Homo sapiens: one gene and its partners. The protein of the gene in region 4 purifies or fractionates together with the protein of the main gene of each other region. This does not show direct contact. Each region holds a gene or a part of one and is shown on either strand. Other genes may lie near its edges. The genes, in order: CCT6B, KIF14, NAA25 and RHOF.

The links.
Region 1: the proteins of RHOF (region 4) and CCT6B purify together in Homo sapiens (affinity purification with mass spectrometry; 2 studies listed by BioGRID and IntAct, with this or other methods). This does not show direct contact.
Region 2: the proteins of RHOF (region 4) and KIF14 purify together in Homo sapiens (affinity purification with mass spectrometry; 2 studies listed by BioGRID). This does not show direct contact.
Region 3: the proteins of RHOF (region 4) and NAA25 purify together in Homo sapiens (affinity purification with mass spectrometry; 2 studies listed by BioGRID and IntAct, with this or other methods). This does not show direct contact.

Annotation. Positions count from the first base shown.
Region 1 is NC_000017.11:34,937,455-34,944,478, forward strand, and holds part of CCT6B (T-complex protein 1 subunit zeta-2), read right to left. Parts: intron 5,453-7,024; coding exon 5,342-5,452; intron 5,190-5,341; coding exon 5,030-5,189; intron 3,168-5,029; coding exon 3,085-3,167; intron 2,260-3,084; coding exon 2,163-2,259; intron 1,877-2,162; coding exon 1,729-1,876; intron 1-1,728. UniProt on the Homo sapiens protein: Component of the chaperonin-containing T-complex (TRiC), a molecular chaperone complex that assists the folding of proteins upon ATP hydrolysis.
Region 2 is NC_000001.11:200,617,738-200,625,569, forward strand, and holds the start of KIF14 (kinesin-like protein KIF14), read right to left. Parts: upstream 3,015-7,832; 5' UTR 2,674-3,014; exon of another isoform or gene 1,102-2,673; 5' UTR 987-1,101; coding exon 1-986. UniProt on the Homo sapiens protein: Microtubule motor protein that binds to microtubules with high affinity through each tubulin heterodimer and has an ATPase activity. Plays a role in many processes like cell division, cytokinesis and also in cell proliferation and apoptosis.
Region 3 is NC_000012.12:112,042,771-112,049,794, forward strand, and holds part of NAA25 (N-alpha-acetyltransferase 25, NatB auxiliary subunit), read right to left. Parts: intron 6,842-7,024; exon of another isoform or gene 6,713-6,841; intron 5,674-6,712; coding exon 5,522-5,673; intron 5,021-5,521; coding exon 4,895-5,020; intron 3,842-4,894; exon of another isoform or gene 1,883-3,841; intron 1,099-1,882; coding exon 855-1,098; intron 442-854; coding exon 318-441; intron 1-317. UniProt on the Homo sapiens protein: Non-catalytic subunit of the NatB complex which catalyzes acetylation of the N-terminal methionine residues of peptides beginning with Met-Asp, Met-Glu, Met-Asn and Met-Gln. May play a role in normal cell-cycle progression.
Region 4 is NC_000012.12:121,783,685-121,790,708, forward strand, and holds part of RHOF (rho-related GTP-binding protein RhoF), read right to left. Parts: exon of another isoform or gene 6,471-7,024; intron 1-6,470. UniProt on the Homo sapiens protein: Plasma membrane-associated small GTPase which cycles between an active GTP-bound and an inactive GDP-bound state. Causes the formation of thin, actin-rich surface projections called filopodia.

The DNA of each region.
Region 1 (7,024 bases), on a different chromosome or scaffold from region 4:
GCAATTCGGTGGTGAAAGTAAAGTCTTTTCAGCAAATAAGACTAAAACAATCTGATACCTTTATATGAAAAAAATGAACTTGTATCCATACTTGCACCATATACAAAATTTAACTTAAAATGAATCACAGACCTAAATGTAAAACATAAGACTGTAACACTTTTAGAGGAAAATCTTTATGACCCTAGGTTAGGTAAAGATTTTTCAGATACCACACCAAAAGCATAATCCATGACAGAATAAAAATAATAAATTAGACTTCATCAAAATTAAGAACTTCTCTTTGAAAGGCACTGTTAATAATAAAATAAGCCACAGAGGAGAAAAATTTGCCAATTATATATCTGAAAAAGCACTTGTACCCAAATTATATACAAAGAACTCTCAAACTCAACAATAGTATACTAACACAAATTTTTTTCTTTTCTTTTCTTCTCTTTTTTTTTTTTCTGGAAACAGGGTCTCACTCTGACGCCCAGGCTGGAGTGCAGTGGTGTGATCATAGCTCACTGTAACCTCAGACTCTTGGGACTCAAGTGATATTCCTGCCTCAGCCTCCTAAGTAGCTGGAACTACAGGTACAGGCCACCACGCCTGGCTATTTGTGTGTGTGTGTGTAGAGGCATGGTCTTGCTATGTTGCCCAGGCTGGTTTCCAACTCCTGGGCTCAAGCAATCCTCCCATCTTGGCCTCCCAAAGTGCTGGAATTACAGGTGAGAGCCACTGTGCATGGCCAACAATCCAATTATTTAAAAGGGCAAAAGATTTAAACAGAAAATTCACCAGATATACAAAGGGCAAATAAACACATTAAAAGATGCTCAACATGGGCTGAATGTGGTGGCTCGTGCCTACAAATCCCAGCACTCTGGGAGGCTGAAGGGGGAAAACTGCTTGAGGCCAGGAGTTCAAGACCAGCCTGGGCAACATAGACAGAACTCATCTCTACAAAAAAAAATTAAAAATTAGCCAGGTGTGGTGGCATGCACCTATCGTCCAGCTGAGGTGGGAGGATCACTTGAGCACAGGGGTTTGAGGCTGCAGTGAGCCATGATTGTGCCACTGCACTCTAGCCTGGGTGACAGAGCAAGACCCTGTCTTGAGAAAAATATATATATGTGAGGTTTGCAGCCAGGCGCAGTGGCTCATGCCAGTAATCCTAGCACTTTGGGAGGCCAAGACAAGTGGATCCCTTGAGCCCAGGAGTTCAGGACCAACCTTGGCAACATGGTGAAACCTCATCTCTACCAAAAATACAAAAATTAGCCAGTTTCAAAACCTGGTCTCAAAAGAAATAAATAGATTAAATAGATTAATAATAAAAATAAAATTTAAAAAGACTTAAAGGCCAGGCATGGTGGCTCACACGTGTAATTTCAGCTCTTTGGGAGGCCAACAAGGGCAGATCGCTTGAGCCCAGGAGTTCGAGACCAGCCTGGCCAACATGGCGAAACCCCATCTCTACTAAAAATACAAAAAATTAGCCAAGTGTGGTGGTGTGTGCCTGTAATCCCAGCTACTTGGGAGGCTGAGGCAGAAGAATCACTTGAACCTGGGAGGCAGAGGTTGCAGTGGGCTGAGATCGCACCACTGCACTAAAGCCTGGGCAACAGAGGAAGACTCTGTCTAAAAATATACATATATACATACATAGGTGTGTGTGTATATATATATACATATATACACACATATACATGAGGTTCATATCAATCACAAGAAAGAGCTTACCATCTTCAATGGCATTTTTGATAGCACGAAGTCCATCTCTTATGGCATCCTTGACTTGTGTGAGAGTATGCTTATTTGGTCCTTTAACCAACAAGGTAACAGAGCAAGGGTTAACACACTCCTCAATAAAAGTGAACTTTTCTTCACCCTAAAGGGTGGCACAAAAATATATAACTTTAATATTTGATGTCATTATAAAATCAACAATTTATACTAGAATACAATCTTCATTTGAATTTTTCTTATCAAGCATAACTAAGGGAGTTAAGTTATATCTGAACTCTTAACAAACATTTAGGTAAATAAACTGTAAAATCTGTTCTGTGAATTAGATCTCAAAACACAAAACATGAAATAAAAGGTCAAGTAGTATTTTTCTTTAAAAAAGGGGGCTTAGTATTCACTTTATAACCACTGTTCATAGAAATACTCACTAATGTATACTCATACACAAGACCAGCATGTCCCAAGCAATCTACAGTGAGATCTTCAAAAGAATTCACGGCCATTCCACCACAAGCAAGAGAGAGTCTGAAATTACATATATGTCACCATAGCTTGATTATGGAGAACATTAATACTAATTTCTCAGAGAGAAGATATCTAATGCAGAAGACTGTATTGTTACTGTATTGTATTGTTTTGGGTTTTTAATTGTCTAATAAAATTGTCTATATTTATCGAGTACAACATGATGATGTTTTTAAATATGTATACACTGTGGAATGGCTAAATTGAGCTAATTAACATACATATTGCCTATGTGAGGCTTGATTTAGCCATTTGTGTGATAAGAACACTTAAAATCTACTCTCAGCATTTTTCAAGAATCCAACACATTGTGCATTCTCGGGTGGGTTTGCAAAAGATTTTTAAAAAGAACAATATATTGTTATTAACTACAGTTGCCATGTTGGACAATAGATCTCTTGAATTTATTCCTCCTAACTAACTGAAATTTTGTATCCTTTGACCCACATATTCCCAGTGCCCCTCCCCTCCCACTGCCCCAGCCCCTGGTAACCGCCATTCTACTATCTACTTCTATGAGTTCAACTTTTTTAGATTCCATATATAAAAGTGAGATCATGCTGTATTATGTTGTATTGTTTTGTTTTTAAAATCTGTTTTAAAAAGATAAAAACTTTCCTTATACTTCAACAAAGTTCTGCAGTAGGTTAACAACCTTGCTTTTTGACAGTTCAATTATTTACTGAAACTAAAAACAAAATTTGGATTTTTTTATGCCACTGTTTTGTTCAACAACATTTACACATAAGCTAAAAGGAAAACACATGGGATAGTTTCCATTTACTCTGTTAAAAACTTAGGATATATAATTATCTGCAAGCTTACCTTTCCATATTTCTTCTTTTTGCTCTGCGAAGAGCTACTATTCCATGTTTTGCAAGAGAATCTAAGGAAAATGGATCAATTCCCTATAATCAAATTAACATAAAAATTATAAACATGTTTTAAACCAGTATTTCTCAAACCTTTTGGTCTCAGCACCACTTTACTCTCTTAAAAATGATTAAGCACCCAAAAAGCTTTTGTTTATGTAAGCTCTATCTATAATATTTGTATTATAAAAACTGAGAAATTTTTAAAATATTTATTAATTCATTTAAATAATAAGCCCATTTTATGTTAATACACATAACATTTTAAATGAAAATTTACTACACTTTTGAAAACAAAAATATATATAGTGAGCTAGCAGTGGCATTACTTTACATTTTTGCAAATCTCTTCAATGTTTATCTTCATAGAAAACAAATGGATTCTCATATCTCATTCAGTATTCAATTTGGAATGATATGTTATTTTGGTTCAAGTTTATGAAGAAAATCTGGCCCCACACAGATAAATATTGTAAAGGGAGTAATATTTTAATAGGCTTTTCAGATAATTATGGAAATTCTTCTTTGATACTATACCAAAACTCAGTAAGTAATAGTTTCTCAAAGGTTAGTTTCACTATGGAACCATAGCAATGAACTTTTCATACTATCTCACATTAAAACACATTGCTGTAACTTGCACACTGAATGGATTATTTATCCATGTATGATTTTATAAAAATCATGCATTTTTAGTCATGTAGATAGCATCAGTTCACTGAGTTAGGCAAAGTTTCCACATGTTGACACATTTCATATATAAAATGTTGTGTTATACATGTAGAAACTGTGTCATGTTATGCATGTGGAAACTTTGCCTATCTCAGTGAACAAAAACTCACATTTGTTAATATCACTACTATTATCAGGAAAGTCTTTTAAGTATTGGAAAGCTGTCAAGTTCACATGGCAGATACAAGTTTTCTGAAATTCTAATTTTTTAAAAAAGTTCAAATGTTATTGACAACAAATACTGTCAGTTGTTTTAAGTCACAGAATTTCCTCATTCATTTTTGAGAGAAATCTACCAAATACCCATATCTAGATAACCACAGTTTGTCTGTCAGTCATTCTTCCAGGTAAAAGTGGCATTCCATGAAAAAGTGGCTAGTTTACCTTGCAATTTAAACAATTACACAAGTGCTCTCCTTCAAGACAACCATCATATTTTGGTATGCAATAGAAGAGCTTTGAAGTTCCCAGCCCCATAATCCCAACACTTTGGGAGGCCAAGCCAAGAGGATCACTTGAGACCAGCCTGCACAACATGGCAATACCCAGCCTCTACGAAAAAACTTAAAAATTAGCCAGGCATGGTGATGCACACCTGTAGTCCTGGCTACTTGGGAAGCTGAGGTGGAAAGATCACTTGGGCCCAGGAGGTCAACGCTGTAGTGAGCTATGATGGTGCCACCCAAGCACTCCAGCTTGGATGACAGAACAAGACCCTGTCTCAAAAGAAAAAAAAAAAACAGTGCTTTGTGCATACTTCATATTTTGTCACACATAATAATAAAAGGATGCATATTTCAGAATCAAAATTTAATAAATTAATAAGTTTTACCACTTCATCAAGACACTCTTAAATGATACTGCCTTTTTTTTTTTTCACTGTAAGTTTGCAGTGGTATAGCAATAAAGAATGCGATGACTACTAGTATAGTTTGGTGCTACTTCTTTGACTTGTACTAAGGTGCCAGCAGTTTTACAGATTGCTTTTGCAGCATCATTGCAAATGTCAACACAATGTAAAAGGTGTAATTATTATTATGAAAATAGTTTTTGACCTCACAGACTCTCTGAAAAAGTCTTAGGGATTCTTAGGGGTCCACAGACCACACTTCAAGAAATGCTTAAGAACATTTACAAATAACTAAAATCTAAACTTTCTTTCTCACCTTTTGATTAATGACGACAAATCCTTTATTTGACTGAGCACAGACTTTGTCCTTCAGGTCTATTATTTTTTGTACTCTATCTTCAATAAATTTTCTTTCAGCTTTTACCAATTTCTCTTTCTCTTCTGCAGTCTTATAAAAGAAACCAGAGTTCACCTCTCTAAAAGATTAATAAAAACCAGCTAGTAAAGGCAGGAGGAAAAAGGAAAAAAGATAGAAGTAGTCTACACCAAACATCTGGAAGGAAAAAGAGATTTTAAAACACCTTTAGAAAAAAAAATTCAAAAGTTATAAAGAGAAAGTAACACGCACGTTTTTTCATATTCCAGTGAAACGTTGCAAATAAGGATAAATGCATCTTCTACTCGCTTCTTCATATCTGGATGACGGGCACCATGATCCAAAACTAATCCTTGGATCAACCTATTAAAAATATTAATGTTTCTTACTTTGAATATATACTCTAAAATTTGGTATAAAATTATCATTGTACTATTAAAGTTACATCAATACTTCCAGGACACACATTGTTTCCTTGTACCAATTTTAACAGTTTTTGGTGTTTTTGTTTTTTGTTTTCAGAGATGGGGGTCTTGCTATGATGTCCAGGCTGGCCACGAACTCCTGGGCTCAAGCAATCCTCCTGCCTCAGCCTCCCAAGTAGCTGGGACTAAAGGAGTGCACCACCTCACCCACCTCCTTGCATTGACTTTAAACCTAACATATAATTAGTAAAATTAGGAAAGAGAATCTACTTTAACACAGTGTGACTATGAAGTCACAATAAAAAGTCAAGCCAGAATTATTTTCTAAGTTATGTGATTCAAAAATATGACACAGCTTATCAAGTAATGAAAGGTACGTATACAATGAGTTTCTTAGGAACATTTATTCAAAATGATTATATGGAACAACTAAAAATTGTTAACCTAAATGTCCAACAATAGGGTATTATTCAGCAAATAATGACCCAACTATTTGATGGTTATAAAAAGTATGTAATAACATGGAAAAATATTTATAGGGCTAGCTGATAAGCATAGAATGACAAATTGCATATGAAGCATGCCTATAACTGTTCTTTTTAACAACAGACAAGGAAGGGGAACATCACACACCGGGGCCTGTTGTGGGGTGGGGGAAGCGGGGAGGGATAGCATTAGGAGATATACCTAATGTTAAATGATGAGTTAATGGGTGCAGCACACCAACATGGCACAAGTATACATATGTAACAAACCTGCACGTTGTGCACATGTACTCTAAAACTTAAAGTATAATAAAAAATATAAATAAATAAATAAATTTAAAAAAAAAAACAACTTGGCATTAAAAAGAAAAAAAATGGGAGGGACCTAAGAGTAGGGGTTATGCCTGGGTAGTAGGAATATAGATGATTTGGAAAGGAGGTGTTTCTTCCTGTTTTCCAAATAATCTTTCAAGAGTCAATATTTTTATAACTTTATAAAATTCATTTACAAAACATTCAGGGGATGGAATTTCTACTTATGAATCCTTTATAACTAATTTTTGTTATATATTTTTAAACTATTTTAGTTCAACATAATTATAAGGAAGTTTTCAAAATTTTACTTTAACTAGATTACTCCACCTCTTAACAGAATGTAAACATATCTAGAAACAATAACACTATGTTCAACATTCCTCACTCTTCAAGCCTCCTTCACTTTCCTCCCTCCCTACTGTCAGCAAATGACATTGTTTCTTTGAGAAAATAGAAACATTGTCCCATTACTACCTCTACCAATCCACTTGCACTTGACCCTGAACCTCCTACTACTATGAATGAGCTGTCCATGTTCCTCTCTATGGGTAGCCTCTCTACTTGTGTACTGGATTCCATTTCCCTCTCTGTTCTTGCACTGTCCCCTAGTCCCCTATATCAATTCTCACCTAAAGAACCATCCTTACCAGCATACAAACTTGCAGTAACAATTCCTATCATTAATACAAAAAATCCTTCTCCCTCAGCCC
Region 2 (7,832 bases), on a different chromosome or scaffold from region 4:
GATCTTTCCTGTTTATTTGCAAGAAAGGAACTTTTTGGTCTTTGTTTAACTTGAAGGTTAGACATTCTATTCTTCAGTATTGATGGAGCTGGGCTCTTAAGCTGAGGCAGGCTGCACTTTGTTGTCAGTTTGTGTTCTGTTGTACATTTTGTAGGTGTTCTTTTTTCTAAGCTCCCAAATTTATTTGAAGTTTTTGCAATTTCCTTCCCAATACTTCTATGATACAAGTTTCCTGTTCCCAACACTTTGATATCCAACTTGCTCTGAGTAGGTTTCGTTGTCAAGTGTCCTGATCTAACAACTTCAGTCTGACTCAGGGAAGCAATGGGTGGTCTATTACTTGAGTACTTAAGTGCAACATTTTCATTTGCTCTACTGGGGGCAGAAAATGTTTCTTTGTATTTCTTATCAGCCATCATTTCAATGACCTGTGGATCTTCATCTAAAGGTACAGAAGAGGCAACAAAAGAGTTTTTAGCATTATTTACAATCCTTACATTTGTTCTACTTTCCTTAGAAACACCATTATTTTCTGTTTCACCTCCCACATTCAGTGTCATTTTGACAGAATCTATTTCAGCTGTTTTCCACTTTTCTGCAGAATCTGTTTTAGCACGACGTTGTAATGTAAGACGTGTTTCTGCTGTTTTTTCAGTTGTGTCTTCCAACTCACTAACAAGCAAAGATGATTCTTTGTTCCTTGTAGTTCTCCTCTGAAGTGCCAATCTACCTACAGGATTAGGGGTAAGGGGCATGTCTGCTGTTTTTCTACTGGCAGAAATAACATAAGTTCTATTTATGTCTCTGACTTTACCTGCAGATCTCAATAATGGATCATCATTTTCACATTCTGACATATCCGACTTCAAATGCAGCTTAAGTCGGCTACTGTGGGTGAGGGCATTCAGTGATGAACTATTTTGGGAAGAAGGAATATCAAGAATATCACCGCTGTTATTTCTATTATGAGTACTGTGTAATGACATTTTGGCAGACAGTTATTTTAAAAAAGAATGTTACTAAGACCCTAAGCTCTTCTTTGGACATTCATTTGATTTCCAGCCATTTCTTATGTATCCATTTCTGAAAGTATCTGCTAAACTAAAAGAAAAAAAAAAGATTTAGATCACACAGACTACAAACAAGCTTTAAAAATATAGAGAGAACATCCCATTGTGTAAGTAAATTCCCAGAGGCATACATTACAATAGATCACAATCTGCAGCTCAGATACTGCTTCCAAGCAACTTCAGGCAAGTCTCTCAGAGAACTTACCATCATTATTCAACAAATATTGACTAAGTTTCCATTAGTGCCAGGCCCTCTGATAGATACTGTAGACTTCAAAGACAAGAATACAATTCCCATTTCTTTAGTCTAGAAGAAATATACTGATAAGCCATATATCAGGCCAAATGTGTCAAGTGACTTAGAAGATGTAAAAAGTGCATGCCAACATAGATTTTCAAGTACTTCCAGTGTGGGGAATGGGAAGGACTAAAGGAAACCCTAGCACCTAAATCAGAGTGTGGAGCAAAGTATTTTTATAAATACCTGCTACACGTATTTTTTTTTTTTGCCAATGTTCCATAAGAAGGTTTATTTTATTTTATTTTTATAAAAATATTTTTTTTGAGATGGAGTCTTGCTCTGTCACCAGGCTGGAGTGCAGTGGCACGACCTTGGCTTGCTGCAACCTCCTCCTCCTGTATTCAAGCAAATCTCCTGCCTTAGCCTCCCAAGTAGCTGGGACTACAGGCGCCCACCACCATGCCCAGCTAATTTTTGTATTTTTAGTAGAGACGGGGTTTCACCATGTTGGCCAGGATGGTCTCGATATCTTGACCTTGTGATCCGCCCGCCTCGGCCTCCCAAAGTGCTGGGATTACAGGCGTGAGCCACCGCGTCCGGCCCATGTATGTTGAATACAGGAATGCCTATAGAGAAGATTGAATTGATTGGTGTCACGAGGCAGATTATTCCCAAGTACCACAGGCAGTAAGTACGATAAGTACTGTAAATTAATTGTGTTGAGAAAAACCATGCAAGATTAGATAAACAGACAACCTGCCCTTTAGCAGTAAGACAACAAATTAGACAGAGGTGTATGTAAATATACAGCAACAATATCTATCAGGTATTAACGTTTTAAAGAAAGGGAACAGCAGTGACAGCTAAGAGACCTGGCTTTTAGTCAGCTTTGTATCCAACTCCTTACAAGGATGTAAACAAGACTTTAAATTTGCATGCCGGGTTCTAACCTGTAAAATGACACTGGTTCAAACTATTGCAAAGATTATTGCTAGCGAGGAACAAATTAATGGAAGTTCATTTTTAAATGAGGCTTTTAAATTTTTACATAAATAACAGTCATTACAAAAAAAATTCGTCAGCTTATAAGCATCTCCCATCAACGTTTCAACTCAAAATACAGAATTTTCCTGTTATGAAATGAATTTAAAGGCAAAAAGAAGATTCTGGAAATTCTCTTGCAACTAAAAACCATTTGCGATTTGCACAAATCAATACGGTTTCTGTTTGAGGAGTTTCGCCATCAGATTTTAAAGAGGACTGGAAGGAATACAAGGAAAATAAGCACAATCCAAACCAAAACATCCGGTGATTCTGTTCTTTCTCTGCTAGTCATTACCAGGGGCTATGACTAAGAATTACCTCTTAATGCCAACCGACTCGGGGAGACTCGGGGAGAAGCCCACGGGCCGAGAGGCCCTGAAGTCCGGCTTCCCGGTCCCAGCAGAGACGCTGCCTTGCGCCCTTCGTTCGGGGACCCCTTCGCCGCCGACCTGGAATGCTGAGGAACTGAATGGGGGACTGGAGCTAAGACCACCCGCCCGCAGAGCAGTGGTCGCCTGTAGGGAAAGCGTCCGCACGCCCTCCCCAGTGCCGAAACTTCGCCCCTCCGCAGGGTCCGGCACCTTGGGGACCCCCTCGACACAGTCCCCACGCCACTCACCACCTCCAGCGCCGGCTCCCCAGAAGGCCGCAATTTGAATGGGCGCCCCGCCTTCTGATTGGCTGCTGGGCGTCGCGTCGGGTGCCGCGCCTTTGCTTCCACCCGCCCCCCGGAAGTGCCGGTGGTTGGGCTCCGGTAGCCGTCTCTGAATGCTGGACTCGCCCCACCCTCATCTCCCAGGCAACGCTCCCTCCCCTCCTCGGGTTCTGCTAAAGCGTGGAGCTTGGCCCCCTTTAAATCCGACCAGAGGAAGGGGCGGCGGTCGCGGGCGCAGCGGGCCCCTCGTTGAAGTGGGTGTCAAACGAAAAGCATGACAGTGACACTCTTGTCGGTCTTTAATCTAAAAGAAGCCATTACATCGAAGACTTCACATTGTAAATGGATATTTGCCCCCAAGTTAATCATAATAATTAACTTTTCTAGTGTTTCCTATGCAAGGCGTTCACGTAGGAAATATGCTAAATGTCTTATATGAATTTTTAAACAGTCCTGAAAATCTTGTGAGATAAATATTAATGTTATCCCTCGTTTACAGATGAGGAACTGAGGTTTAGAGTTAAACTTGTGAAAGATCAGACAATTAGCAGTGGCATAACTAGAACTTGAAGGTTCTTGCCGCCGTACAATGTAACTCCGTTTCAGTAAAAGTTCCCTTTTTTTAATTTTTTTTTTCTTTTTTGAGACGGAGTCTCGCTCTGCAGCCCAGGCTGGAGTGCAGTGGCCCCTGCAACCTCCGCCTCCCTGGTTCAAGCGATTCTCCTGCCTCAGCCTCTGGAGTAGCTGGGATTACAGGCGCGCACCACCACGCCCAGCTAATTTTTGTATTTTTAGTAGAGACGGGGTTTCACCATATTGGCCAGGCTGGTCTCGAATTCCTGACCTTGTAAGCTGCCAGGCGTGAGCCACTGCGCCGCCCAGCCCCCATAAGATTTTGAAATCTGAAAAAATATTACAAATACATTCTGAAAAATAACCAAATAAATGAGAAAGACTAGATAAATAGATATTGTAAAGCAACAATGTTTTTTAAACAGGCAAAAAGTACAGAGATATTGAAGAAGTATTCACTGAGATAGAGACCATAAGTAGCTCCAATTATATAGACCAACCAAACAGATGATAAAGTACTCATTCTAAATCTTACTCTAAAAATCATTCTAAAACTCAATTAAAATTAAGGTATAAGGAAACTATCAGAAAATAGAATATAATATTTATCAGGGCCAGGTGCGGTGGCTCACGCCTGTAATCTTAGCACTTTGGGAGACCAAGGCAGGCGGATCACTTGCAGTCAGGAGTTTAAAACCAGCCTGGCTAACATGGTGAAACCCCGTCTCTCCTAAAAATACAAAAATTAGGCAGCCGTGGTGGCGGGCCCCTGTAATCCCCGTTACTCAGGAGGCTGAGGCAGGAGAATCACGTGAACCGGGTAGGCGGAGGTTGCAGTGAGCCGAGATCGCGCCATTGCACTCCAGCCTGGGGGACAAGAGAGAAACTCCGTCTCAAGAAAAAAAAAAAAAAAAGTTATCACATCTATGGGAAAATGATCATTCAATTTAGAAACAAAGCAAGATATGTCAAAGAAAAGACAGACAAACTCAAATACATAAAAATTTTAAACATATGTATAATTCAAAATAATAAAAATAAAATGTAACTGGAAATATATATTAAACATGACAGAAGACATAAAGACCTTTTTCAATTTTAAAAGGAAAATAAGCTCATAAATAGAATAAAGCAAGTATTTTTTTAAATCCACCAGAGGGAGACAAACAGAAAGAAAACGTGGAAAGAGTCGAAGTAAAACTGGCACGTTTGAAGCTTTCTGGATTATGTAAGATTTAAAGAAAAATGATTAACTCATGCTAATTAATGATCTCTTAAGATTAAATTTTTTTTTTTTGAGACGGAGTTTCGCTCTAGTTGCCCAGGCTGGAGTGCAATGGCTTGATCTTGGCTCACCGCAACGTCCGTCTCCCAGGTTCAAGCGATTCTCCTGCCTCAGCCTCCCGAGTAGATGGGATTACAGGCGTGCACCACAACCCCAGCTAATTTTGTATTTTTAGTAGAGAAGGGGTTTCTCCATGTTGGTCAAGCTGGTCTCGAACTCTCGACCTTAGGTGATCCACCTACCTCAGCCCCCCAAAGTGCTGGGATTACAGGCGTGAGCCACTGCGCCCGGCCTAAGATTAAATCTATTACAATTTAGCAAATTTCACAATTTTTAAATTATTAAAATGTGGTATGTATTTTCCTGGTGTTTGTATCTAGTTGCACTTGGGGTCTATAACGAAAAGGTGCAATAGGAAATTAATAATTTTAAAATGCAAAGGACAAAGCAAAAGTTGTGGAAAAGTGGTAAGAGCACTTTGGATTCTAGCTGAGGATCTGTCTCAACCTAATGGTGAGACCAGAGATAAGTCTCCTTACTGTAGATCCCTCGCTTGTGAAACGAAAGTGCTGGATTAAATCATCATAACCAGCAAGGATTGAGTCCTTTCTTTGTGCAAGATAAATAACCTAACTCCATAACCTTATAAGATAGGTATTATGATTATCGCTGTTTTACACATGAGGGAAAGTGGGTTTCCAAGGAGTTAAATAGCTTGCCTGACATTATACAACTACTGGGTCACAGAGTTAGGTTCAGAACTCAGGAAATTAAACACCATTTCCTGTGCTCTGTACCACTACCCTGTACAACAGTTTTTACAGATTCTTTCTGGATCTCAAATGTCTATGGCTTTATAATAAGGACAAGAGTTAAACAAACTGCATGAACCTAAAGGTATTTTAAAATCTGTCATATTTTGTATTTTCCTTCTAATTTTCTTTTTTTTATTTTTATTATTATTATTATTATTATTTTGAGACGGAGTCTTGCTCTGTCGCCCAGGCTAGAGTGCAGTGGCGCCATCTTGGCTCACAGCAAGCTCTGCCTCCCGGGTTCACGCCATTCTCCTGCCTCAGCCTCCTGAGCAGCTGGGACTATAGGCATGCGCCACCACGCCTGGCTAATTTTTTGTATTTTTAGTAGAGACAGGGTTTCACCATGTTAGCCAGGATGATCTCGATCTCCTGACCTCGTGATCCACCCGCCTCGGCCTCCCAAAGTGTTGGGATTACAGGCGTGAGCCACCGCGCCCGGCCCTAATTTTCTTTTTCTTTCTTTTCTTTTTTCTTTTTTTTTTTTTTTTTTTGAGACAGGGTCTCAATCTGTTGTCCAGGCTGGAGGGCAGTGTCATGACCATGGCTCACAGCAGCCTCAACTTCCCTGGGCTCAGGTGATTCCCCCGGCTCAGGTGATTCCCCTCACCTCAGCCTCCAGAGTAGCTGGGACTACAGGTGCATGCCACCACGCCCAGTTAATTTTTGCATTTTTTTGTGGTGACGGGATTTCACCATGTTGCCCAGGCTGGTCTCTAACTCCTGAGCTCAAGCGATCCACCTGCCTTGGCTTCCCAAAGCTTTGGGATTACCGGCGGGAGCCCCTGTGCCTGGGCTCCTTCTGCTTTCTAATACATGTTAGACCAAGAGTCTTGGAAGTATCCACTATAATATGCTTACATTTTTTTTTATCAGGTCTTGTTGATGAATCTTTATGAATTCAGTTGTTGTCACTTGGTGAAAAAATCTAAATACATTCAGCAATACTGCCAATAATTTTAAAAGAACAATTATGCAAGTAATCCCTATTATTATTATTATTATTATCATTAATATTATTTTGAGACAGAGTTTCACTCTTGTTGCCCAGGCTGGAGTGCAGTGGTGCGATCTTGGCTCTGCCTCCCGAGTTCAAGCAATTCTCCTGCCGCAGCCTCCTGAGTAGCTGGGATTACAGGCATGCGCCACCACGCCTGGCTAATTTTGTATTTTTAGTAGAGACAGGGTTTCTCCATGTTGGTTAGGCTGGTCTCGAACTCAGGTGATCCACTCCCCTCGGCCTCCCAAAGTGCTGGGATTACAGGCGTGAGCCACCACACCCAGCCTAGTAATCCTTTTTAATATATAAAGAAAAGAACTCAGGGATTAGAAAATATTATAGACTCTCTTTTTCTCTTTGAGTCATGCTGGTTTCATTCCAGGGAAGATTAGCAAGATTTAAAAACCATTGTCAGCCCCAAAGCCTAGTGAGTATCCTATTTTTACATAAAGGAAGCTTGGGTCTTACATAAAGTTTCATTTAGGAAGAACAATTTTTTTTAAGGCCTAGTTTGACCTTCAATTGGTTGTCTTCTTCCCATTGTGCTTTGCCAACATAGCCCAAGGTCATTCTGACATCCTGTTGAAAATGCTGGGGATTCCTCCAAGTAGACTTGTAGGTATTTTCCTAAAATGGATAATGAAAAGCTTCAAGTCACTTACTTTTCAACAAATTTACAGAGAGGTATTAGGTGATCTCAATAAGAATGTTGAGTATGTACAAATCACTCAGCTGTCTGTACTAACCCCAAAATAGTTCATAATCTCATTTCTTTTCGGTGGTACATGTCAATACTAGCAGTGTCTAGGCTGCCTAGAATTGCCTAGAATGACACATGTTTAGTTGTTTTTATAATCAATTTTTAGTTTGTGTATTCACATAAATCAATTTTCTAATTTAAAAAACAGCATAAAAAAGATTGTGTCAAGTAATTGCTTCTCATGTTCGTGGGTATAAAAGGGCAACTGTCAAGTAAGAAGCCACCTGGATTGCAAGAATTATACATCATCTCAGTCTTTCTAGAGGGGAGAGAGGGGAGTTTTTCTTCAGTGTTGTAGCTTCATGAATAATTCCACACCCATCCACATGTCTTTACCCGTTTACATAAGGTTTTTTTTTTTTTTTTTTTTTTTTTTTTTGGTTTAGACC
Region 3 (7,024 bases), 9.7 Mb from region 4:
TGCTGGGATTACAGGCGTGAGCCACTGCGCCCAGCCTACTGCTTCATTTTTAAAATCCAACAGCCTTTCAACAAATGAAGAATTTCTTCAACTTTTGGACCTAACAAGTGATTTTAAATATGGAATGGACTTAAGCTTCTAAAACATTACTTTGTAACCTACGACTGTACCCTCTCATACACTACACCACACATTTGCAGAACAGCTTCCAGCTTCCATGTACTCTAAAATTTTCCAGATGTGAGGTTATAGACATTTTATTACGTGTACTACATTTTCTATGACAAAGACCCTATAAACACACAGTGTACACTTACCTAAACCACTGGTATCCAGCTCATAAATATCATTGACAAGATAAAAAGAGCTTATCTGGCACTGAGAACAGCCAGAATTAAAGAATCCACCCATTCTGGTAGGTACAGGACCAAGGAAAGGATACTGGAAAAAAGGGAGAAAAATAATGCTCTTTTAAATCCATCTAAATGCATACAAAATAAGAAAATCAGGTAACTAGTAGATAAAAACCTGTCTCAGCGGTTCAGCTAAAAGCCACTAATCAGCAAACTAATAACTGAATCATTACAGTAAAAACAGAACATTTATATTAATTTGTTGCTAGCTATTAAAAACTTAACACCACAAAAAGTTATTTTGCTTTCTCCCTCACTAGTCTGGATATTGAGGAAGCCTCTGCAATTCCCTCTGAGTCTAAAATATTCCTCTTTCTCCTGCAGAAGCCATAAACTGGGACAAAACAATTCCTTACTACTCACCCACCCCAAACTCCTGTTTATAAAACAGTCATAAATATAATTATTGCAACTTTGATGGTAAATATGTATTGATGGTACCTGAATATCCTTCTCAATAAATCGCTTTCCTGTCTCCAGGGTTGCCTCCAGCTGTTGAAGGAGCAAACGAAGAATATCAATCCGGGAGGATACCCCATTCTCGGCAGTCTTCTCCGAGTTCTTTGGCTCCACAGGGTGGTTGAGACTTGGAAGTCCACTTATCAGCCTCAATGTTAAGGATCGGATTCTTAACCACAAGGTCTCCTCCTCTAAGGAAAGTTTCTTATGTTCTTCAGAAACGTCCCTTAAACAGAAACATCCCCAAATTATCTAACTTATTCAATATTCAATCCATTGCTTTCAATTTTTTTTTTTTTTTTTGAGACAGAGTCTTGATCTGTCGCCCAGGCTGGAGTGCAGTGGCACTATCTCTGCTCACTGCAAGCTCTGCCTCCCAGGTTCATGCCATTCTCCTGCCTCAGCCTCCCAAGTAGCTGGGCCTACAGGCGCCTGCCACCACGCCCGGCTAATTTTTTTTTTGTATTTTTAGTAGAGACGGGTTTTCACCGTGTTAGCCAGGATGGTCTTGATCTCCTGACCTCGTGATCTGCCTGCCTTGGCCTCCCAAAATGCTGGGATTACAGGCGTCAGCTACCGCGCCTGGCCTCAAATCATTTAAAGTTAACTTTCACCAGTTAAGATGCCTTTGAAGGGTTCCAGCTTTCATTTACTAGCTGAATGACCTAAGACAAGCCAAAATGTTCTCAAACCCCATTTCACTATCAATAAAATGGGAATGATAACCTATTTAACAGGTCATTTTTGGCTGGGCACGGTGCCTCACACCTGTTATCCCAGCACTTTGGAAGGCCGAGGTGGGCAGATCACGAGGTCAGGAGATCGAGATCATCCTGACTAATACGGTGAAACCCCGTCTCTACTAAAAATACAAAAAATTAGCCGGGCGTGGTGGTGGGCGCCTGTAGTCCCAGCTACTCAGGAGGCTGAGACAGGAGAATGGCATGAACCAGGGAGGCGGAGCTTGCAGTGAGCCAAGATTGCACCACTGCACTCCAGCCTGGGCGACAGAGCAAGACTCCATCTCAAAACAAAACAAAACAAAACAAAACAAAAAAAACAGGTCATTTTCCTTATAAGTGACACTTTGTTCTCTGATTATAAAAATAATACATGAGGACAGGTGTGGTGGCTCACACCTGTAATCCCAGCACTTTGGGAAGCTGAGGTGAGAGACTGCTTGAGGCCAGGAGTTGGAGAACAGCCTGGTAAACATAGCAAGACCCAGTCTCTAAAAAAAAAAAAAAAAAAATACAAAAAATTGGCTGGACGTGGTGGCACACACCTGTAGTCCCAGCTACTAGGGAGGCTGAGATTGGAGGATTGCTTGAGCCCAGGAGTTCAAGGCTGCAGTGAGATATGGTCACGCCACTGTACTCCAGCCTGGGTAAGATCCTGTCTCTAATAAAAATAATACACAACATAAAAAATGCAAATGATAGAAAAATGTAAAACGTAGAAAAGGTGCCCTGATAACCAATACTCACAGTATTATCAAGTTTGGTATAGATCTTTTTAGACTTTTGTAATGTGGATGTATAAAAGTCTAACTAAAAATAGCGGGTGTGGCCCGGTGCAGTGGCTAACGCCTGTAATCCCAGCACTTCGGGAGGCCGAGGCAGGCAGATCATGAGGTCAGGAGATCGAGACCATCCTGGCTAACACAGTAAAATCCCATCTCTATTAAAAATACAAAAAAAATTAGCCGGCCGTGGTGGCACACGCCTGTAGTCCCAGCTGAGGCTAAGGCAGGAGAATTGCTTGAACCCGGGAGGCGGAGGTTGCAGTGAGCCGAGATTGCGCCACCGCACTCCAGCCTGGACGACAGAGTGAGACTCCATCACAAAAAAAAAAAAAAAAAAAAAATAGGGGCTGGTTGCGATAGCTCACACCTATAATCACAGCACTTTGAGTGGCCCAGATGGGGGGATCAACAGAGGTCATGAGTTTGAGATCAGCCTGGCCAACATGGCAAAACCCCATCTCTACTAAAAATACAAAAATTAGCCGGGCGTGGTGGCAGGGACCTGTAATCCCAGCTACTTGGGAGGCTGAGGCAGGAGAATCCCTTGAACCCAGGAGGTGGGGGTTGCAGTGAGCCGAGATCATGCGACTGCACTCTAGCCTGGGCGACAGAGACAGACTAGGTCTCAAAAATAAAAAGTAACTAAAAATAATACTTACACAACTTAACAATTTTAAACAAATTGGTTACAGTATGCAACAGAGGCTCCATCTAAAAAAAAAAGTAACTAAAAATAGTATGTATGCAACTTAAGTTTAAACAAATTGGTTACAGTAATTACATTATTTTGCAAACTTCATCTTTTTATGACAGTATGTGTAGAAAAGAGTTAACATAGCAGGCCTGCAGCTATTATCGTTAGAAAGGCCTACTTGCAAGGTTGGCCCTTGGCTGATGTCTGGGAACTTTGCACTCCAACTGTTCCCTAAAATGGTAAGAGTGACTCGCTGTGCCTAGATTGTTTATATAAACCATGTTGTTTATGGTGAATACCTGCTTTCTTTCCACTCAGGATAGACAGAGTGTACCCACATAACAATGAAACCTTAAGCACCAAGTCTCTACTGGGTTTCCCTGAGCAGGAACATTCCACCTGTGTTACTGCATTTTTCCCTGCTGGAGAAAGGAGCATACTCAGTGTTTCCCCTCAGAGGAGGGAGAAAGCACTGGAAGTCTGAGTTCTCCCGACTGTGCCTGTTCCTTTTTCCCTTCCGGATTCTGTCATGTGTCCTTTCACTGTAATAAACCTTAGCCGTTGAGTGCAACTATATGCTCAGCCCTGTGAATCCTTCTGGGACTCAACAATCCTAAATCACTGAATGTGGCCTTGGCAACCCACAAATCACAGAATTTTCAGAACTACCTCATATACACTTCTTAGCATGTTTCTGCATTTATTTCCTTAGGTTCTACTTTCCTAGAAGCAGATCTGCCAAATTAAATGGTATGTGGCATTTTAAATCTTGATACATATCACTACAACTCCCTATAGGAAGACTGTATAAAATTTATCCCTGTGTAAATGCATAATAAGTATTTACCACACAGCCTTGCTGACCACAAGTATTCATCTTTTTTGCTAGAAACAAAATCTTTATTGCTGTAAGATGTGTTTCTTTGCCCAATTTCTTATTTTCTTATTGACTTATTAAGAGTTCTCTCTATATATGAAGGATACTTGTATGAAGAAATTTACTACAAACCTTTAGAACTTAACAAATTTATTATTTCTATTTACAGAAGTTAAATCCTTTATGTTTCCAGATTTGGTATAATACTAGGAAAGGCTTTCCTCACCTATTTAAAAATATTTTCTATATTTTCTTCTAGAATTTCTAAGGAATCTAGAATTTAGCATACAGTCTTTAATCGATCTGGAATTCTCATATATGCTGTGAAGTAGATCTAACTTTTAGATTAACCAGCAGTCCCAGCATAGGGGTGAGCTATACTTTCTTCATTTGGCTTACCTATATTTTCTGATCCCTACAACAAACACATGTTATTTTATATTTGTGTAAAGTGAAGTTTGTTTTTTTTAATTTTAGATTCATCCTAATTCTTTTTTTTTTTTTTTTTTGGAGATGGAGTTTTGCTCTTGTTGCCCAGGCTGGAGTGTAATGGTGCGATCTCAGCTCACTGCAACCTCCGCTCCCTGGGTTCAAACAATTCTCCTGCCTCAGCTTCCCGAATAGCTGGGATTACAGGCACACGCCACCACGCCCAGGTAATTTTTGTATTTTTAGTAGAGATAGGGTTTCACCATGTTGGCCAGGATGGTCTCGAACTCCAGACCTCAAGTGATCCACCGGCCTCGGCCTCCCAAAGTGCTGCAATTACAGGCCTGAGCCACCGTGCCCAGCCCAACCTAATTCTTTAAAAATAAACTGCTTCACCCAGGAGTTCGAAGCTGCAGTGAGCTATGATCTTGGTCTCTTTAAAAAAACAAAAAACAAACAAAAACTTTAAAAATTGCTTGGGGTTAAATTCCAGTTACCTGTCTTTTGGATCCCAGCTGAAAAAAACATTTAAGTCTCTGTTGTCTCGCAAATCTTCCCATGGAATGTCATCTTCTTCTGGCCTAAGGTTCATTGACTTTATACTTTCTGCTAAACTGGTTGATCTGTGATAGAGAAAAATCCACATATTATTTTAATAGTAAAATAGCCAGAAAATATTATTAATCAGGACTTCCTGTTTTACTAGACAGGAAGGGAAAGAGGAAGGAAGGGCTCATAATAAGGTGAAATAGAACCAAGCGCAGATCAAACTGGCTTGCTACATGGCAAGAAAAAGGCTTCTGGAAGCCCACACAAAACAAAGGGGATCAGCATTAATTCCTGAAATCTCTTGATTTGTAGGGGAGGCGGAACCTTCGTAAGCACAATATGGACCAGGCATTGATGACCATGACCTAAATGGCTTCTGTAATGGTCTCAAGATGTTGCTGGCAGTACTCTACCATTCCCCATGACATGTGCCAAGTTCTGTTTCCCCACTGTCTCTCTCCCTTTTTTCCCCCTATTTTACCTTAAGCCTGCCAATAACACCCATGAGCCCATTAATGGCTCTTAACAACTGATCTAATCCCTTAGTTCCTTTATAGCTCTCATGCAATACTTACATATTTGCTTCAAGTAGAAGGTCTAACAGCATCCGTTCAGTACGGACTTGTGCAAAATGAAGAGAATTATTCAGCCTGTTCCTAAAAGCGATAAACTCTGGGATCTTCTCAAATGCACCATATTTGTAAGCTTGAATAATATATTCTGAGGTCTGAGAAGGAAAGACATCACCTTGGTATAAATAGTTCACAAGTCAGGCAATGTAAGCAAACCTTGCCAGCCAAAACAAAACACTCAAACTAAAATTAAGTTTTAAATCTAATCTTTAAAGGTCTTGGTCACCAAGTAGAATATTAGCTTTTTAAAATGTTTTTCTTCCTTCTTATACTTTAGACAAATGTCTCCTTTACTAATATTACTAATTGTAATAACCAGCTTCTGCCACCATCACATAAGCCTTCTCTTGGCAGTCATGTCTTTCAATTCAATAGGAACTGAGGTTTTGTTTTGCCACATCAGTCAAAAATTTGGTTAGTGCCATTCTGGAAGGGATGTTACTCCATGTTTTTCTGCATCTAAGATAAACTGTGTTTCATACAAAGGTTCCAAAAGCACCAGAATAATAGAACCACCTGCCCCCCGCCCCCCCAAATAAAAACCACTCTCCTTCAGAAAAAGACAGGCTGCTCCTTGGTTTTGCTTATTTCTGAATACTGTATTAGAAACACAGGGCATATGAGCATTACGTCAGGATAGAAGTAAGACACCAAACAAAAGACCTATCAAAATTCATGTCATAATCTATTCTGAGGACAAAGACTTCAAGAACCAAGTTTCTTGTCCATCTACATTACGTAAGACCTCTGCTGGAAATTTCCTTAAACAAGTATGTGAAGGGAACATTCACCACATGTGCTTTAATTGTAGCTTAATACATATACAGAGATCAAACATTACAGAACAGAGGCAAGATAAAGAATTCTAAGCAGAAATTCTGGCACAATAGAAGAAAATCTCAGGGAAGAACATTTCATGGGTGTGGGTCTATGCCATCAGGATCAGAAGACAGGAGATTACCCCTTTGGGCCAAGGAAACTATTATGCTCAAAGCTGATGTCTGCCCCCAAAAAAGATCCTTTCTAGAAAAAACAGTCTTTTTACACAGCCTCAGTTAATCAGCTCTGCCCCCATCTCCATTACGTCTGAATAATTTGCCCAGTAGGAAAATAGGCCAATAGTCAACAACATACCCTCTGATATACAGCCTTGCAGGGTTCATTTCAGGCCGCGGGATTGCGCCACGGGCGCTAATTCAACTGCATTCGATGCGGCTTTTAAACCCCCATGGGACACCTCGGCGAGCTGTTTGCCTGCAGTATCTGGAGAAATTAAAGACGGACGGACACAAGAAAATTAAAAAGATTACTTGTGATCCTGCAGGTTTCAAGAAGGACTACCTGAAAAAGCTCGAGTATACCTTCTAGCTTGATTAAAGGACAGTGATACACCCTATCAAGAGGAGGCCAGGATACTCTAAACACATATGCCTATCCTATGGCCCC
Region 4 (7,024 bases):
TTGGTCAGGCTGGTCTCGAACTCCCGACCTCTGGTGATCCACTCACCTCGACCTTCCAAAGTGCTGGGATTACAGGGATGAAATTTTTGTATTTTTTAAGTAGAGATGGGGTTTTTGCCATCTTGGCCAGGCTGGTCTTGAACTCCTGACCTCAGGTCATCCACCTGCCTCGGCCTCCCAGAGTGCTGGGATTATAGGCATGAGCCACCGTGCCTGGCCCCTATTGCCCTTTGCATAAAATCCAAACATCTCCCCTGGTTCACATGACTTCATCGCCTGCCACACCCGCTTGCTCACTGCAGTCCCGCCAAGGCACCATCTCACTGTTTCTCAAACCCACCAAGCTCTCATGTCCCAGCCTTTGTGCTTGCTGTTCCACATGCCAGGAAGGTCCTTCCCTCATTTCTCTTTTCACCGTTTTCTCTCTAGCATTTTATTCTTAAACATCCAGATTAACCATCTATATTTTTTCCCTTTTGAGGATAACTGCCTGCCCTCTGCGACTGCCTTTATAATAATACATCCTATACTCTATGCAGTTTTCAGGGTGCTTTAGTCTAGAAATGGTTAAGAAATCCTTGGTGAAGCGTGGTGGCTCATGCTTGTAATCCCAGCACTTTGGGAGGCCGAGGCAGGGGGATCACGAGGTCAGGATTTTGAGACCAGTCTAACCAAGATGGTGAGACCCCGTCTCTACTAAAAATACAAAAATTAGCTGGGTGTGGTGGCAGGTGCCTGTAGTCCCAGCTACTCCAGAGGCTGAGGCAGGAGAATTGCTTGAACCTGGGAGGCAGAGGTTGCAGTGAGCCGAGATCGTGCCATTGCACTCTAGCCTGGGTGACAGAGCAAGACGTCGTCTCAAAAAAAAAAAAAAAGAAAAAAAAATCCTTACATGACAGCCAGATATGGTAGGGAAATGATGAATACTCCCACAACATAGGAAGAACCTGAGAGTCACAGAAATGAAGTGATTTGCTTGAGGTCAATGACTCAGTGACTGGGCCAGGAGTCAACCCCAGCTCATGAAATTCCAAGTGGGATGTTCCTTCTGCTGATACACACTAACGTGCTATTTTGTTTTGTATTGTGCAAAAATAGGTTCTGGTCCTTTAAGATGTAACAATGGGGTTCACAGTTCTGGCATAACTTATTCCCTTTTACAAATATGGCCGGAGTGAACAGGTACATTAGTCCCCCTAACCCACAAGGGTGGATTCCAAGACCCCCAGTGGATGTTTGAAACCACAGTCTAGAACTCTAGATACGCTGTTTTTTTCTATATGTACACACCTATAAGACAGCTTAGTTTATGAATTAGGCACAGTAAGAGATTAACAACAAGAATAAAATAAAACAGGGCCAGGCACCGTGGCTCACACCTGTAATCCCAGCACTTTGGGAAGCCAAGGCGGGAGGATCACTTGAACTCAGGAGTTCAAGACCAGCCTGGCTTGTTACCGAGCCAGCTACTGACTGACTCACAGGCAGGTGGTGTCTCCAGCAGGGATACACAGAGGAAGGGGCGAATCATATCCCGGGTGGGATGCAGCAGGACAGCGCACGATCTCATCACGCTGCTCAGAGCAGTGCATGATCTAAAATTTATGAATTATTTCTCGAATTTTCCAGGTAATATTTTCAGACCTCAGGTAACTGAAACTACAGAAAGTGAAACCGTGGATAAGGTTATAAAATGGGGCCCCCTTGGACGTCTTCTCTCATTTCTTTTTTTCTTTACTTTTTTTTTTTTTTTTTTTTTGGAGACAGGGTCTTGCTCTGTTGCCCAGGCTGGAGTGCAGTGGCACGATCTCAGCTCACTGTAAGCTACGCCTCCTGGGTTCAAGTGGTTCTCCTGCCTCAGCCTCTTGAGTAGCTGGGACTACAGGCAGGTGCCACCATGCCTGGCTAATTTTTTTTGTATTTTTATTATTTTATTTTATTTTTGAGACGGAGTCTCACTCTGTCACCCAGGCTGGAGTGCAGTGGTGCGATCTCAGCTCACTGCAACCTCCGCCTCCCGGGTTCAAGCGATTCTCCTGCCTCAGCCTCCTGAGTAGCTGGGACTTGACAGGTGCCCGCCACCACACCAAGCTAATTTTTTGTACTTTTAGTAGAGACGGGGTTTCACTGTGTTAGCCAGGATGGTCTCGATCTCCTGACCTCGTGATCCGCCCACCTCAGCCTCCCAAAGTGCTGGGATTACAGGTGTGAGCCACGTGCCCAGCCTTTTCTTTTCTTTGTTTGTTTTGAGACAGAATCTCACTCTATCGCCCAGGCTGGAATGCAGTGGCGTGATCTCGGCTCACTGCAAACTCCGCCTTCTGGGTTCACGCCATTCTTCTGCTTCAAGCCTCCAGAGTAGCTGGGACTACAGGCGCCCACCACCACGCCCGGCTAATTTTTTTTTTATTTTTTTAAGTAGAGACGGGGTTTCACCGTGTAAGCCAGGATGGTCTCGATCTCCTGACCTTGTGATCCACCCGCCTCGGCCTCCCAAAGTGCTGGGATTACAGGTGTGAGCCACAGCACCTGGCCTTTTTTCTGTATTTTTAGTAGAGACGGCGTTTCACCATGTTGGCCAGGCTAGTCTCAAACTCCTGACCTGAGATGATCCACCTGCCTCGGCCTCCCAAAGTGCTGGGATTACAGGCGTGAGCCACCATGTCAGCCAAGGTTGTTCCACTCTCGTCACACACAGCAGAGACAAGGGTTGAGACTTGCCCACTGGGTTTGGCAACTATGGCATGCAGTGACATCAGGACAGGAGGTGGCGGGGCAGGCATCAGGCTGCAGTGGGTGAGGGAAGAAGTCAGCCCCGGGGCGCTGGAGGCAGTCACACCCTGCCTGCCTTTCCTGGGGCCTCTGCCCTTGCTGTTCACTCCTCCAGAAGGCTCTTTCAACAGGGAGCAGTGTGGCTCCTTCCCTCCTCTCCTTCAGGGCTCTATGGAATGTCGCCTCCTCCCAGAGACCTTTCCTGACTGCTCTGAAACAGCTTCCTTGGCAGTCTGCCCCATGACAGTGGCTTTACTCATGGCTCTCACCCCTACCTGATTTCACAATACTTCTCTGGGGCCGGGCGGGGTGATTCACACCTGTAATCCCAGCACTTTTGGAGGCTGAGGCAGGTGGATCACTTGAGGTCAGGAGTTCGAGACCAATCTGGCCAACATGGTGAAACCCTGTCTCTACTAAAAATACAAAAAACTGGCCGGGTATGGGGCCAGGCACGTGTAGTCCCAGCTACTTGGGAGGCTGAGGCTGGAGAATTGCTTGAACCCAGGAGGCTGAGGTTGCAGTGAGCTGAGATCGTGCCATTTCACTACAGCCTGAGGAACACAGCGAGACTCTGTCTCAAAACAAAAACAAAAATCAAAAACAAAAAAAACAGTAATTCTCTGGGTTTTTTGGTTTGCCTCTCCTGCGGGCAGGAACCACCTCTGTGCTGTTCACTGTTGGGTCCCTGGGAACACAGGCGAGCTCAATACCTGTTTGGTGAAGGAAGGCTCAAAGGAAGGAGTGGTTGAAGAGGGTTAATCGTCATCTCTCTGGCTTTAGGTGCCCTGCAGCCTTGGCAAGGGCATTCCACTTCCTGACCTGTGTTCATTCAAGCAGCCACCCTGGGAGGTGCGCTGGGTGGGGACAGTTCTTCCTGTTAAGAACGCAAGTGGTGGAGGGGGCCTTTGTCAAGGTCAGAGACAAGCACCCTGTGAGCCAGAGGCCAACCAGTCCCCAAGGTCAGCTGCCTGCCAGGCCATTCTAAAAGCACCAGTTCTTCCAGGAAGCTGTCCCCAGCCTTCCCAACCGGGAATTAACCTCTGGGCCTCAGTTTTCTCATCTGTGAAATGGAGATGTGAAAAGTGAGCGAGCCTTGATGACAGTCATAATAAAGATGGTTAATATCGACTCTCTTTCTCTCATATAAAAGTCATGGTCTAGACCGGGCGCTGTGGCGCATGCTTGTAATCCCAGCACTTTGGGAGGCTGAGGCGGGCGGATCGCTTGAGGTCAAGAGTTCAAGACCAGCCTGGGCAACATGGTGAAACGCTGTCTCTACTAAAAATACAAAAATTAGCCGGATGTGGTGGCATATGCCTGTAATCCCAGCTACTTGGGAGGCTGAGGCAGGGGAATCACTTGAGCTGGGGAGGTGGAGCAGAGATTGAACCACTACACTCCAGCCTGGGCAACAGAGTGAGACTCTGCCTCAAAAAAAAAAAAAAAAAAAGGGGGGGGGGGCGGGGTTTGCTCTGTTGCTCAGGCTGGAGTGCAGTGGTGTGATCATAGCTCACTCCAGCCTCAACCTCCTGGGCTCAAGCCATCCTCCTGCCTCAGCCTCCTGAGGAGCTGGGGCCGCAGGTGTGTACCACTGTGTTACATGCCAGGTCTAGCTCAAAGCCCTTCACCTGGATTAACTCATCTTTCCCCCAAAAGCCCTACAAGGTAGACACTATTGTTGGCCCCATTTTACAGGCTGAGAAACGGAAGCACAGAGAGCTGGAGTGACTTGCCCCAGGCCACACAGCTAAGGGGAAGCTTTGTAAATAACAGAGGACCTTACTGGAGTATTTTTTTTTCTTAGCCTACCCCAGAAAACAGGAAGGAATCCTCACCCTACTTGTCCCAGCCCTGACCAGGTGAGGAAAAATGTCAGCCCTCTCAAGAAAGAGGGCCTCTGGAAAGGGAGAGGCAGCCAGCTCCGACTCCAGCACCTCCTCCAGGTTGCCTTCCTGGCTTGACTCTGCCCAACCCAGCTTTCCCTAGAATTCAGTGTGGGCCTTTGGGGCGTGGGGGTGGTGGGGGGACCAGGCCTGCAGAGGACTACTTCCGTGTGCACCAACCCCATGCCCACTTGGGGATGGGGGAGCGTACTATTAATAAATACCTTCTCTCATATGAGTCAGGAGGGTCAGGTTCCATTCACTCATGCACATTCTGGGCAGGACTGTTCAGGGCAGCCTCCACATCTCGAATTGACGCCCACATTTCCCTCTCTGGGTGTCAATTTCCTTATCTGGGAGAGGGGGTGATAACAGTGATAACCCTCCCCCTAATCTGGAAGGTGAAAGCCCAGGAGAAGGGAGGCAATGCTTAGAGCGGGAGCAGTGCAGGGGCAGGGGTGGAGTGGGGGGCAGTGCCGGGAGGCAGGAGGACTGCTATTGTGGTTACTGTTGAAACTTCCAGGAGAAGTTAATAGCCTGGCATGGTGGGTGGTCAGAACCCCAGAATCTTTGGACCCAGAAGCTTCAGGGGCCTCCCAGCCACCAGGTGATACCATTACCCTCCACATTCTACCTAAAATGATACCAGGGCTGAAAGGGTCCATGTCACCTGCCCGTAGTCACAGAGGGGGCCCATCCAGCCTCTGCAGATGGGCTTAGAGGTTAAAACAGCCCAGGTAGACCAGGCGTGGTGGCTCACACCTGTAATCCCAGCACTTTGGGAGGCTGACATGGGAGGATCACTTGAGCCCAAGAGGCTGTGGCTGCAATGAGTTATGATCATGCTATGGCACTCCAGCCTGGGTGACAGAGCGAGACCCTGTCTCTAACCATTCCCCACCTCAAAAAAAAACCCAGGAATTACATGCAAAGGATGCACGTGCTTCTGGTGAGGAAGTCTCTAGGCCTGGGCTCCCCCTAGAGCCGCCCATCGTCCTGACGTGCACTCAGGCGGTGCGGCAGGGCTGGGCGGAAGGGAGGCTCATGCCGCACACAGGGCTATTTTCTTGGTGGGATGAGGCTTTGCCAAGGAAGTCCTGCTTCCAGGGACAGGGGTCTCTAAGGCCCAGAGCAGAGTTGAGGAAAAAAGACCTCAAATCTGCAGGAGGACACACAGGGCGGGTGGACCCCAGCTCCAGCTGCGGCGTTGGTCAGGGAGGGGTACTGGCAGCATGAGAAGTGAAGCTGCCAGAAGAGGAACCCACTTTTACTCACTCTGCTGGGGGCCGCCCACCTGTGCTTTCCCAGGGAGACAGGGGCTGGGCAGCCCCAGCTGGGAGTTGAGACCACCTTCTGGGTGACCCCAGCCTTGTCTCAGCCCAGGCCTCCGGTGCTTCTGGGGCTCACAACACACATCTGTCCCTGGTTCCTTGTCTTAGCAAATCCTACTCCATTGCCTAACAATTTTCTTTCTGTTCCCATCTCAGGCTGAAAAGGGGACCACCGCTCCCCGGGCAACCCCTATCCCATCCTGTGCCCCTCTAACCCTGGACCCCACACCTTGGCCCTGATGAGCTCACTCTCCCGTCTGTGTCTTCACAGCCCACCTCACCCCGCCTCCCCCGGCCCAGGAAACTTCAGACTTCACCGCAGCTTCCTGCCTCAGAGGATGTCAGGGCCCCGGTGAGGCCGACAGAGCAGTGAGTGCCATGGCCCCCGCCCCTTCCCTTCTGAGCCCTGCGAGCCCCGTCACCCGATCTGCCCTCCCTCCGCTGTGGTGTCTGTAACTACTTCCTCAGGAGGGAGACAGCCACACGGGCCTTCCACGAGGGCCCCTGTGGGCAGCGTCCGGCCCCTGCCCAGGACCAGCGTTTGGTCCTGGGTGTGGAGAAATTCAGCCTCTGAGAGCCACCCCTGTCTCACAGCTCTGGTGGCCACCAGTCGGGAAGATGCCCCTTCCGCCACTGTGTGTGGCCCATTGGGTTCTAGAACTTTCTACAACTACGTTTACTAGACTCATTTCTGGCTTGGCCATTCCCTCACCCTCTTGGCCTTTGCCTCTCTCTACGTGGCCGCCTGGCCATGGCTTTCTGTCCTGTTCTCCTGAGAGCCGTCCACCTGCAGGCCGAGATGAATCATCTCCGGCATTCGGATCCACTACCCATTCATTCCATCACCTTCCAGGCCTTGCTCCATGACAAGCACTGGGACCTGGGCTCTCCCTGGTGGCACTCACTGACCAGGGGATTTCCTCCTATGAGCAAGCCTTCCCTGGTCACGGGGGGATACCCTACAGGGAGCAGCCAGATCTCTTCTCCCTGGGTGCCCCTCCTTGGGGTCTGTCAGACTGTGAGGCTAGCCACCTC